Regions from separate parts of the Homo sapiens genome. Here region 2 is linked to region 1. The links come from fine-mapping of genetic effects on gene expression. A gene starts in region 1. The other region holds a variant in brackets. All regions are shown on one strand. Distances are from middle to middle. Region 1 holds the start of NUP58 (nucleoporin 58). Region 2 overlaps NUP58 (nucleoporin 58).

Evidence for each region. PIP is the estimated chance that this variant, and not a neighbour inherited with it, causes the effect.
Region 2: its variant is the best candidate, but not a certain one, in a credible set for the expression of NUP58 in thyroid (GTEx, PIP 0.54).

What each region holds. Positions count from the first base shown.
Region 1 is chr13:25,299,347-25,304,732 of GRCh38, reverse strand. NUP58 (nucleoporin 58) reads right to left here and starts at 3,108. Exons shown (of 16, transcript NM_014089.4): 1 at 2,853-3,108. The coding sequence starts at 2,959. RefSeq lists enhancers at 2,813-2,862, 2,973-3,052, 3,213-3,452.
Region 2 is chr13:25,330,847-25,336,232 of GRCh38, reverse strand. It overlaps NUP58 (nucleoporin 58), which reads right to left. Exons shown (of 16, transcript NM_014089.4): 13 at 4,675-4,876. Among named protein-coding and RNA genes, the nearest start is that of NUP58, 32 kb to the right of the region's middle. The variant A/G (reference allele first, on the strand shown) is at 3,024.

The DNA of each region.
Region 1 (5,386 bases):
CATGGTGAAACCCCATCTCTACTAAAAATACCAAAAATAAAAATAAAAAATTTAGCCGGGTGTGGTGGCGTGCCTGTAATCCCAGCTATTTGGGAGGCTGAGGCAGGAGAATTGCTTGAACCCGTAAGGTGGAGGTTGCAATGAGCCAAGATCACGCCATTGCACTCCAGGCTGGGTAACAAGAGTGAGACTGTCTTAAAAAAAAAAAAAAATACATATATATATATATATATATATATATATATATATATATAATCTTGACAACATAACTGAAGACATTATGAAGTATTACATAATGAAAGTTGAAAATACTGCCAAAGAAACACATCAAAATGAAATTTTTCTCTACCACAAAAGCAAGAGAGAAATTTTGGTGGCAGTGAAATTTACTAAATTCAAGAAAAGCAAAAGCTACCCTAAACTTGACCAATTATTGCCTCAAACCAATGTTATCTGCCAAGGACTTGATAGGATGTACTGTAGAAAAGCCAACTTGACTCAATCACATCTGGAATGTTATTTTAACTTGCCCAGCTTGCCCTAATGCAGACTTGGTAGCTAACATAATAGCTAAGATTTACTGAGCACTTAGCAAGTGCCAGACTTGATGCTAAATATTTAAATACTTCATCTCACTCATCAACTCAGGTAATATATTATACTCCTTTTCCAGATGTGAGAACTCCCCTAAAATGACCAACCTCAAGACATCAAATCACTAGGTGGCACTAGGGGCTGTCAGGCCTCCCAACCAGCACTCTAACAAATTTATGTCGGACAGTCTCCTCTTTCATTAATTTATCCAAGCCTCTCTAAAACTTGGGTAATTTTTTATAGCTTATTACTAATAACTCATTTGCTCAGTCATTCAAATTGTTATTAAAGCCCTTTTTCTATGCCAGGCACTGTCCTTGGGACTGACAATGAGGTGGGAAATTAAGACTCAGACCTTGCCCTCAGGCAGTTTCTAGTCAGTGAGAGACATAGGTATTAATTATTCTAGTGCTGAGATCTGACAACAAACAAGTTAACAATAAATATAACAAACTGATTACAATTGTGATCAGCACTCTAAGAGTACTAGGAGAATGGAAATCTCCCCTAGACTGACAGGTCAGAAAAGGCCTCTCTGGGGAAGAGACCATTTGATATTTGCAAGGAAGGGGCTGGCAAAGCCCACTTGAAAAGAGAAAAGGCCATGTTGCTAGGACAGGCTTTCTAAGATCAGGACCATGAGAGAAATATAAAAATTAATTCATCAAGTCATAAGCAACATTAAAAAAAAAAAGAAATAGAAAATATCAAAGTGCATCCCATGAAGTAAGGGTATCTTTCTCTGAAACTTCATTTCAGTTATTTAGGGTGGTAGTTGTGTGTTTGTTTTTAACAGTGGGTCTGCATAGCTAAAATAAAAAGATGGGCTCAAGATGAGTCCCGCTCAAGATGAGTCCCCAGAGGTTCCAGCAGAAGTGGACCTTGCAGACTATGGTAAGTTTTTTTTTCTTTTTTAAACTTCATTCTAACGATGGCGGGTAATGATTAAAGAGAGAGCAATGGGAATTTTGTTTTTCAATTACTCTGGCTAAAATGTGGCAGAACAGATTGAAGAAGTTGATTGGAGTAGTTTTCATCTAAAACAAGAAAGACAGCTGGTTAAAAATCTGACAAGAATCAAAATTATTTTCATAAGAATGTAAGGATCAAGAGAGCAAGACTCTTAATACCTAAAACAGAGCCTTGCACATGGGAATCTGTCCAATAAATATTTGTTCCACGAATGACAATAGCCTAAGCAGGGTTGTGGAACTGGAAATAAAGACAAACAGAAATGGCAGAAGTAACATTATCAGAACCTGTTGTTGAGCGAGTAGAGTAAGAATAACGGAGGTATGGATGAAAATTCAAATTTCTGAATTGACTGTGTAGTCCGTGGTTCCTCCTCCCTCCCTTTTTAAACTGCAGGTCATGCTTAAGTATTTGCCTTTTAAATCTACAGCCACATCTTTTAAGCTTCAGGAAGTATCTTGTTGACAGTGTGCACACTCCTTAACTTTATGAACCCCTCCACCTTTATCTTAAAAAAAATTGAGTTCTAAAGCTTAAATCTCTCATTAAAATGTCTCACCACTTTGTTTCTTTCTGGATAGTTATGTTTTTGTCGCCACCTGAACTAATGGGTTGCACAAAAACAAGGAACATGCTACCTACGTTTTGTAATTTAAGTAAAAGACAAATTGAGTTATTACAACACAACATTCTCGCATCAGATATACTAATCTGCACATACTGCAGAAAATTACCACTAATAAACACTGTAAAAAAGTGTTTTTGTTTTTTTTAACAAAAACAGATAAGGTCCCATGTGGCACAAAAGCTTGAAAAGCTGGTTAAAAACCACAAAGTTATTAAAACACCGTCATATCCAAAACCGCAAATGCTGCAATGAAATCGGAATTATCTATCATAAAACTCCACAGTATGCTATAATTTCATTCATTCATTCAATGTTCATTCTATGCCTAAGACTGACACATCGCTAAAGCTCCGGGGTAGACCCCAAGGCCCTTCCACGCAGTCAAGACCCCACTAGGTCCAAATAATGCCTGAACTATACGTGGATTCTGGAAACCTCACAGCACAGAACCCATCCCGCCCTCCACTTCACCAGGCCGCGCTGGGCCCGGGTACCGCGGCGAGAGGCCTACGACGCCGGGCGGCTAGATTAAGTGCTTCTCTCCAGCCCCACTGGGAAGGAAGCCAGAGGGAAGAGACAGGATGGGGACACCAAGGGAGCTTTGCGGGGGTGGGGGTGGGGGTGAATCCGGCCCAGGAAGGCGAGAAAGTGCGGTTACCTAGACGCTCCCGTTCCGAAGGAGAAAACGCCGCCTGTGCTGGTCCCGCCGGCGGCCACGGTGGTGGAGCCCAGAGTCCCGGACCCGAAGGAGAACCCTGTGGACATGTCTGGCCAGGGCTCGACGCCGTCAGCAAGGCGAAATGGGTCTGGGACACTTCTCTCGCCTCAAAGCCGAGGCGGGCCGGGCAGCATCTCTCTCGCCCGGCACGGACCTGGCGGGAACTTCCAGCCCCAACGGCGGCGAAGGCAAGGCTGAGGGGGTGGAGCAACCACGCAAAAGTACGCCCGGCGCTCGCCGCGCGCACGTAGCCCGCCGGAAGTGTAACCGTCACGCAATGAGCCCTGGTACGTGAGTGGGGGACGGCGAGCCGCGCAAGGTACGCTGGGACCAGGCGAGAATAGGCGTACTGCCTAATCTCTTAAAGGAGTAGGCTCCCAGAGTTTAAAAACAGTAAAACCATTTCTGTCATTTTTTAGTTCTTCTATCGTAGCATCTGTACTGACATAATCCGCACTTTAGGGTGATGAATGTCAATTGCTACTTCTATCTAGCCTCCTGCCAAAATTGATGCTCAGAATCGCAGAATCGGGGAGGTCCCTCCTGAGCATCTCTAAGCTCCCCACTCAGAAAAGGAGGCGGCTTCGGGCTTTCGTTGGCTGCCGCCCCATCCCTAAGAAGGAAGGGGAGCGTGTCTGCTTCCTGAAGGTTCGGAAATCAATCGAAAATAATCCATGCAACCGTCCCACGACGTGAGCCCCACCCCTGCGCCCCAGGCCTCGCGGAGCCAGTTGGTCGCAGTTGTTGCGAGCCCGACGCCCAGCCCCGAAGGGGGCCCAGAAGAGCGTCCCAGGCGTCCGTGGGGTGGCCGGCTGTGGTCCTGGCGCCCAGAAGTGGCCAGGCCCGCTGGATTTCCTGGGATGCGGTCAAGTCCACAAATACTGTCCGTGCATCCTGATGCTGGAGGGCGGGACCTTGGGCCGAGCGAGTGTGGCTCCGCCAGAAGGGCCCTCGGACACAACCGGTGCTGGAGGAACTACAAAGTGGAAGGATTAGGAAACGCACAGGAACATGTACGAAAGAAGGCGAAATGTGAGGTGTAACTTACATTTCTAGGATAACTCAAGAAAAATTCGCGTTTAAAGAGAACCTCTCTGGCGAAGCATCAGGAAAGGCTTCCTGGTGGTGGTGCATTCGAGGGTTGTCATCATAGTGTTAGTTTTTATTTTTCCCTCAGGGATTGTTACATTACTCCCCCAAATGGTTTTCCTACTCGTGATCTCTAACAAAATCCATCCCATAAGCAACCCCCGGATTTATGATCTAAAAAGCCCAGTGGCTCTTTAGTTTGGCACTTGATGACCTCCGTATGATTAGTCTTTCTAACCTCATCTCACAGTTCTCCCTAATTCAGTACTTTAATCTTCCGTTGAGCTTGGGCATTGCCACCAGCTGTGGACTGAACTATTTCCCTCCTCCCCCAATCCATATGTTAAAGCCCTACCCCACCCCAATATGTTGGTATTTGGAGATGGAGCCTTTGGGAGGTAATTCAATTTAGATGAGGTCACCTTGGTGGGTCGCCCATGGCGAGATTAGTGCCCTTATGAGAAAAAACAACGAAGAGCTTGTTCTCCTCTGTGTGCCATGTGAGGACAGAGCAAGAAGGGGCTTTCACCTGGAACCCAAACTGCCCCATCTTTATCTGGGACTTAGCCTCCAGAATTGAGAGAAGTAAATGTCTGTTGTTATAGCCACCTCAGTCTATGGTATTTTGTTGTATCAGCCAAGCAGACTAATACACCACCTCTGTGTTTGTATAATTAAAAAGAAACGTACATTTTATTTTGTTTTTTAAATTTAATTTATATTTTACTTTATTTTGAGACAGAGTCTCGCTCTGTTGCCCAGGCTGGAATACAGTGGTGCCATCTCGGCTCACTGCAACCTCCGTCTCCTGAGTTCAAGCGATTCTCCTGCCTCAGCCTCCCAAGTAACTGGGATCACAGGCGCACGCCACCACGCCCGGTTAATTTCTGTATTTTTCAGTAGAGATGGGTTTTCACCATGTTGGCCAGGCTGGTCTTGAACTCCTGGCCTCAAGCGATCTGCCCACCTCGGCCTCCCAAAGTGCTGGGATTACAGGCGTAAGCCACTGTGCCCGGCCATAACATTTTAAACGTCATAGAAGTCATAATGGGAATGATAAAAAAGAAAAAAGGGATATATTTGGATTAAGATATAAATAAAAACTTCATAGTTATCGAACAGGAGGCAAAAATAAAAGATTGTTGTGAGTTTTAAAGCTTCGGTGATATAGAGAAAGCTATTTTCAGTGATGGCTATAGGGTGGTCAGTAAGAGGATTGTTCACATAAAGTCTAGGAGACTTCCTTTTGACTGAAAAAAAAAAAGATCCTGATGATTTTTATGGGAAGATAGAAAGGCACTCCCTATGTCTTTTGATTTTCTCGTGTATTCTTTCCAAAACTATTGAAGAATACCAACCTACAATTAGTAATAGCAAAATGGCTG
Region 2 (5,386 bases), 32 kb before region 1:
TACATTACACCACTTATCACCTGATTAAATAAAGTAATGAACATTTACAAAGGCACCGCTGTGTACCTTGACAGATTCAATACATTCAAGATTTCAATTCAGAAGTTTCTTTCCAACGTTTTGGAAAATGTACTCAGAAGCAGAACGATTAGTCATCCTTTTCCCTCTTGTTACTTTAAAGATTTTGGCTGAGTTTGTTTGGCAAGAATAGCATCAAACTTACTAGCCTCTCTTTTAAACTACTATTTTTTTTTTTTAAAACTAAGCAGAATACAAAAATCTAAAAATCTCTCATTTGGATAAATAATTTATGAAAATTATTCAATAAACTTCATAGTACAATCTTCAGTATTGTCTTTTTCAAGCACAGTGATCAGTGCATCTCAAAGATGAGGGAACTGTCAAAGTAATATACACACTAAAATTTAAATTTTTAAAGAAATCAAAGCCTTCAAGTTATCCAATGAAGAATGAGGTTTGTATATTAAAAAGGTAGTGTAAAATTATAAAGCATTTAAAGAAAAACAACCGAGGAACTACATTTTGCTACACTGGGACAGAAACTGGACTTTTCGAATAGCTTCTAACCCAGAAAACAAACAATAACTAATAGCAGCCAGAATTCTTATACTACTATTAAAAAAATAATTTAAAATTTTACATCCAGTTTGAGATCACTTTGAGAATAAAATACCTGCCTAGCAGCTCTTTTGTAAAATGTTACTATAGGAAAAAGAAACCAAGCATATTATTATACTTTCTGATTCCTAACAAAAAACATAAAAAACACATGTCCAGTTCTTTAACATTGAGAGACTTGTTTGTCACAGGTTAATAGGAGGCACTGCTGGTGGAAGACCCTAAAGAATAATGCACACCACAGCCCTCAGCCTTGTAAGTCGTAAGAGTTACTCAAATAGCATGCTTTTTGTTGTGTGTGGGTCTGTTGTTAAGAGCAACAGAACATAAGATTTTTCTAATCATCAATATTCAGAATATAATCAAGAACTCATATCTAATGATGACAAGACTTTCCATTGCACATCAGATACATGATATTTTTAGTTTTGTACCTTCACACAAATTCTGAAGGCAACATCATTTATAAAACTCGTAGGCAAATGTATAACATTTTTTAATAGTAAAAACTCATGATAAATATCTCCCATGCCAAAGTATTAGCATATATTACACTCTGGCCACCATATATATTAGTTTCACTATTAGAAAGCAGTCTAAATCCTTCAGGCAAAAGTTACGTAAACAATTCAAGAAGTCTGCTTTGAAATTTGAATAGTCATCCAATGAGAGGTTCTTATTTCCATAAATAAAATTAAGTTTGTAGTGATATATACCAATGACTGGCCAAAGTGAAATCTTCATGTAGAGTAACATTTTACAAAAGTTACCATATAATATATTCACACACAACAAAACCAGGTTTAGCGCTGTAATTCATATTTTCCAGAATAAATTTTACTTTCTTAAAAGTAAAACTGCATTAACAGAAAAAGGACTAAAGTGCTAAAAATATTTTATAATTTTCCATGATCACCCCAAATGCCTAATGTAATTAGTATGGTTATTTCTAAGTCACATTTTAAAATAATTTTTCTTTAAAAAACCTAAAATGCGTTTTCCCCAGTTTGAAAAATTTTACTCTTACTGATTTAATGGGGAATGTTCCTTTGGTTATTAAATACAACAAAATCACAAAACCACAAGAAACTAAGATGAAATACTTAATGTTTCCTATTTAACACTACACCTTAAATGTCCAAACCTACACTAAGCTAAAAATTAGGAATTCCTAACAAAACGTCTTGGCTCTCCTTAAAACAGCAGCTAAGTCACATAAGAAAGTCTTATTATGTAAACATCAAGAACTCTTAAAGTGTCAAAACACAATAGCAAAACTCAATCCCAGATACATTGCTAAAAAACCTATCCTAAATTAAAATTATACTGAAAAGCCTAATGTAAATGTCTTCAGTTTTTCAGGAGGCTTGGGAAGCACTTATAGACAAGTGTCAAGTTCTGCCAACATGGAACTACGTTATCCACGTTATCGATGCTCATGATTTCATACACAAATAGCCTGCTGGATTTTCAATTCTCTGCAGCCTTCAGAACAAATAACTGTAAATCACACATGCCTAAGCCCTAGTATACTTTTTCATTAAAAAAAAAATTGAAGGAGGACAAAGAAGTCGTTTAAGTCTATTCCTCCTCCTCTGAGAAAGATACAGAAGCCACCTTCAGAAGGCAGCAGTCTAAGAAGCTATTTGCTCTGTGCCCATATTCATGTTAATAAAAATTTCATATGCAAATAAAAGCAAAACCCTTCTGATAACTCAAATCTTGTATAGATCAACAGTGATGTATAAAAACAATGCATAAGCTCTCTCTACCCTCATCTAGATGGTCTAAAATTTGTTACTGGCACTTAAAAACAAAGATTTCACAGAAGTCACAGGGCATAAGGGATAACTTATGGGGTACAAAACACCATTTGATAAATAGGGACATTTCTAAATGTATCTAACAGAGCTCAGAAATCTCACATCATGGTGACATGACTAAAAATAACGAAAATTTTGACTGGGAAGGCCTGGGAGACCTTTAGAGAAACAAAAGGAGAAAGAAAAGATAATGTAAAATTGTTATCACTGTTGTTTAGCTTCTCAGTTCTAAGAATTCATACAATTCAAAGCGAAAACACTGTAAGGTTGTTTAGGTTAATAAATTATAATTTCTGCCATCTGATGAGAAAGCCCTTATGTGGACTTCAAAGTTTCAGGGAAGAGTGAAGGCAGTCAATTTCCCCAAAGCCTGGCAAAAGTCACAGACAAAATTAAAGCCTATGAGCAAAAGGCTCCTCAAGAATACTCCAGATTAAGCTAACATTGTCAACCACCACAGAGGGCAAAGACAAAATCTATATTGTCTACCTTTGTATTCCTCGAGCCCAGCACATAGTAGGCACTCATTTAGAGAATGAACACACATCTCCATATGTCCAC[A/G]AGCTCAAAATGTATAAGTGAAAACCTATGAATTTCTCAAAATAATAATCTATAGATAAGAAAGTTAAACACACACACACACACAAACCCTTGACAGGAGATTTTGCTTCAAGTTTAGGTATTTATCATAGAATATATTCACTTACAACATAACTTTTTATATAACTGACATTTCTCAAGTTCTATTTAATAGAATGGAAATTCACTATGTTTAAAGAACACTTAACCAAATCTACACTTATCTACTTTAGGATTAATACTGGCTCTAAAAAGTAAACTAGTACTATGGTTGGTTTGATTAACTGGTTAGGTAATCATGAGAGCTGATGGTCATAATTATGGGATTGAATCCTTTTAAGAAGAAATATCAATCCTCAAAGGAATCAATCCCATAATGACTTTTTCCCTCCATAACTTAACAATGCAATCCTACACTCCAGCCAGCTAGAGAGCTACCAGACAGTGCTCGTGCGAGCCACTATTCACATGGGTCCAGCCACGGGATATGGAGGATTTGGCATAAATCTATCATCAACCCTTTACTTATGGCAAGTCAATTCTGTCATCTCCAAATGTGAAGAACAATTTTTTAAACTGCCAATAGTGAAAACCAGAGAATGCTTCCCTAGTATAGGTAGCTTGAATGCAATCTAAATATGTATTAATTTTTTTGTGTGTATTATAATGTACTACTGGACTATATGGAACTCTCAGAAAGACACATGCTATTGAATAGTAAGCATTACTAAGAAATTTATGAATGATTAAAATAAAAAAATCAATATCGATTAAGACTATTTTTCCATGTCAAGCTTCAAACCTGACAAAAGGGATGGCAGGATTAAGATAACTATTAACCTCCGAAAGACACAGGACCAAATAAAACACTGTAGAATGACCACAAAAAATGTTTCTCTAATTAGAAGTGTAACTAAACCAAGAAATAAAACAATCTGCTTTCCATGTCACCAATTATTTTCATCTGTTCAACTTCCCAGTTGCTCCTTAATGTGCAATCCACATCTCAAAACATCTTTTTCCTGCTCTTGCTGTTCTGTTCACCTTGGAAAGGTACAATTCTAGCATGTATCATCTTCAAAATTTGGTTTAGAGGGCTTGTATTCTGTTTACAGTCAACATACATACAAACAAGCCTATTGATCTTCAACATACCTTCAGTCAATAAAAGCATACTTCATCCTGAATGTGGGTACTTTGTAATCACTATGTATGAGGAAAATGAGAATGCACCACCTATCAGTATCATATATGAAAAATTCAAAGAATGGATGGATGATCTCTGACTTTAAAACAATAAATGGTACAGTCATGATTTCAGAATCTAATGTTATTCTTAAATGTAATTCACTAGTGAAACACCATGTTCTAAAGGGCATTTATAGCATTACAGCAAATAACATTAAGTAGATTCACAATATTCAATATCTAATTGATGTATAATTATTGCTAAGACTACCCTGCCTTTTTTATCAGGTATGTTTATAATCGTGTCCATCACAATTTTAGATTGTATTGGAACAGCTACTCATAGAAATTTCTTCAGTGCTCACACAAATGGAAGACTTATAAAAACGCACATAAATGTTCTGCATTGGAACAGTAAGAAGCTATAACTTGAATGCGTTCAGACCTGTAGCAGGCTGTTGCTGCTGTGTAAGTGTTGCAGCCATGGCAACGGCTGCTGCGTTTGGCATGGTGCTGAAAGGAGTGGGTCCAGTAGTAACTCTGGGTGTGTTCTGCCACTTCTTGGCTTCTGCTCGCCTTGTTTCAAACACATCAACAGCATCTCCCAAGAACATTTTCCTGTAGCCAAGGTACTGTTCTTTCAGAACCTAAAAGAATAATAAACAAAACGGCTAAATGAAGTTTCACATTGACTATGGTTAATATGTGGATGAATATAACCATAAATTACCAAAGACAGTCCCAATATTATACATTCAATCCAAACTGCAAATTAGAGTGCTAATAATGCACTTTGGTGTAGGAAATGATGAGTTCAAGAGTTCTACTGCTCCCTTGAATAGTTTACTCCCTATCTTTACAATATGCTTCCTAAAATACTGTCTTTGTGAGGCCTTGTTTAAAATAAATCAGCTAAGCTTTTAGACAGAGTAATATTTAAATACTCCATCAATGTGCAGATGGATGGATGAAAAGAATTTAAAAATAAATATTCCAGTTTTTCAAGAAACTTTCCCCTCAAATGTCCAACCTTTTCATAGCCTTTTGATTAAAACAGTTTAAAAAAAAAAGAAAGAAAAAAAAGTCAGCACTAAATATACATACTTTTAAATACATTTTTTAGAAGGCCTGGGTAACACATGCTAAAATAAGGTGTT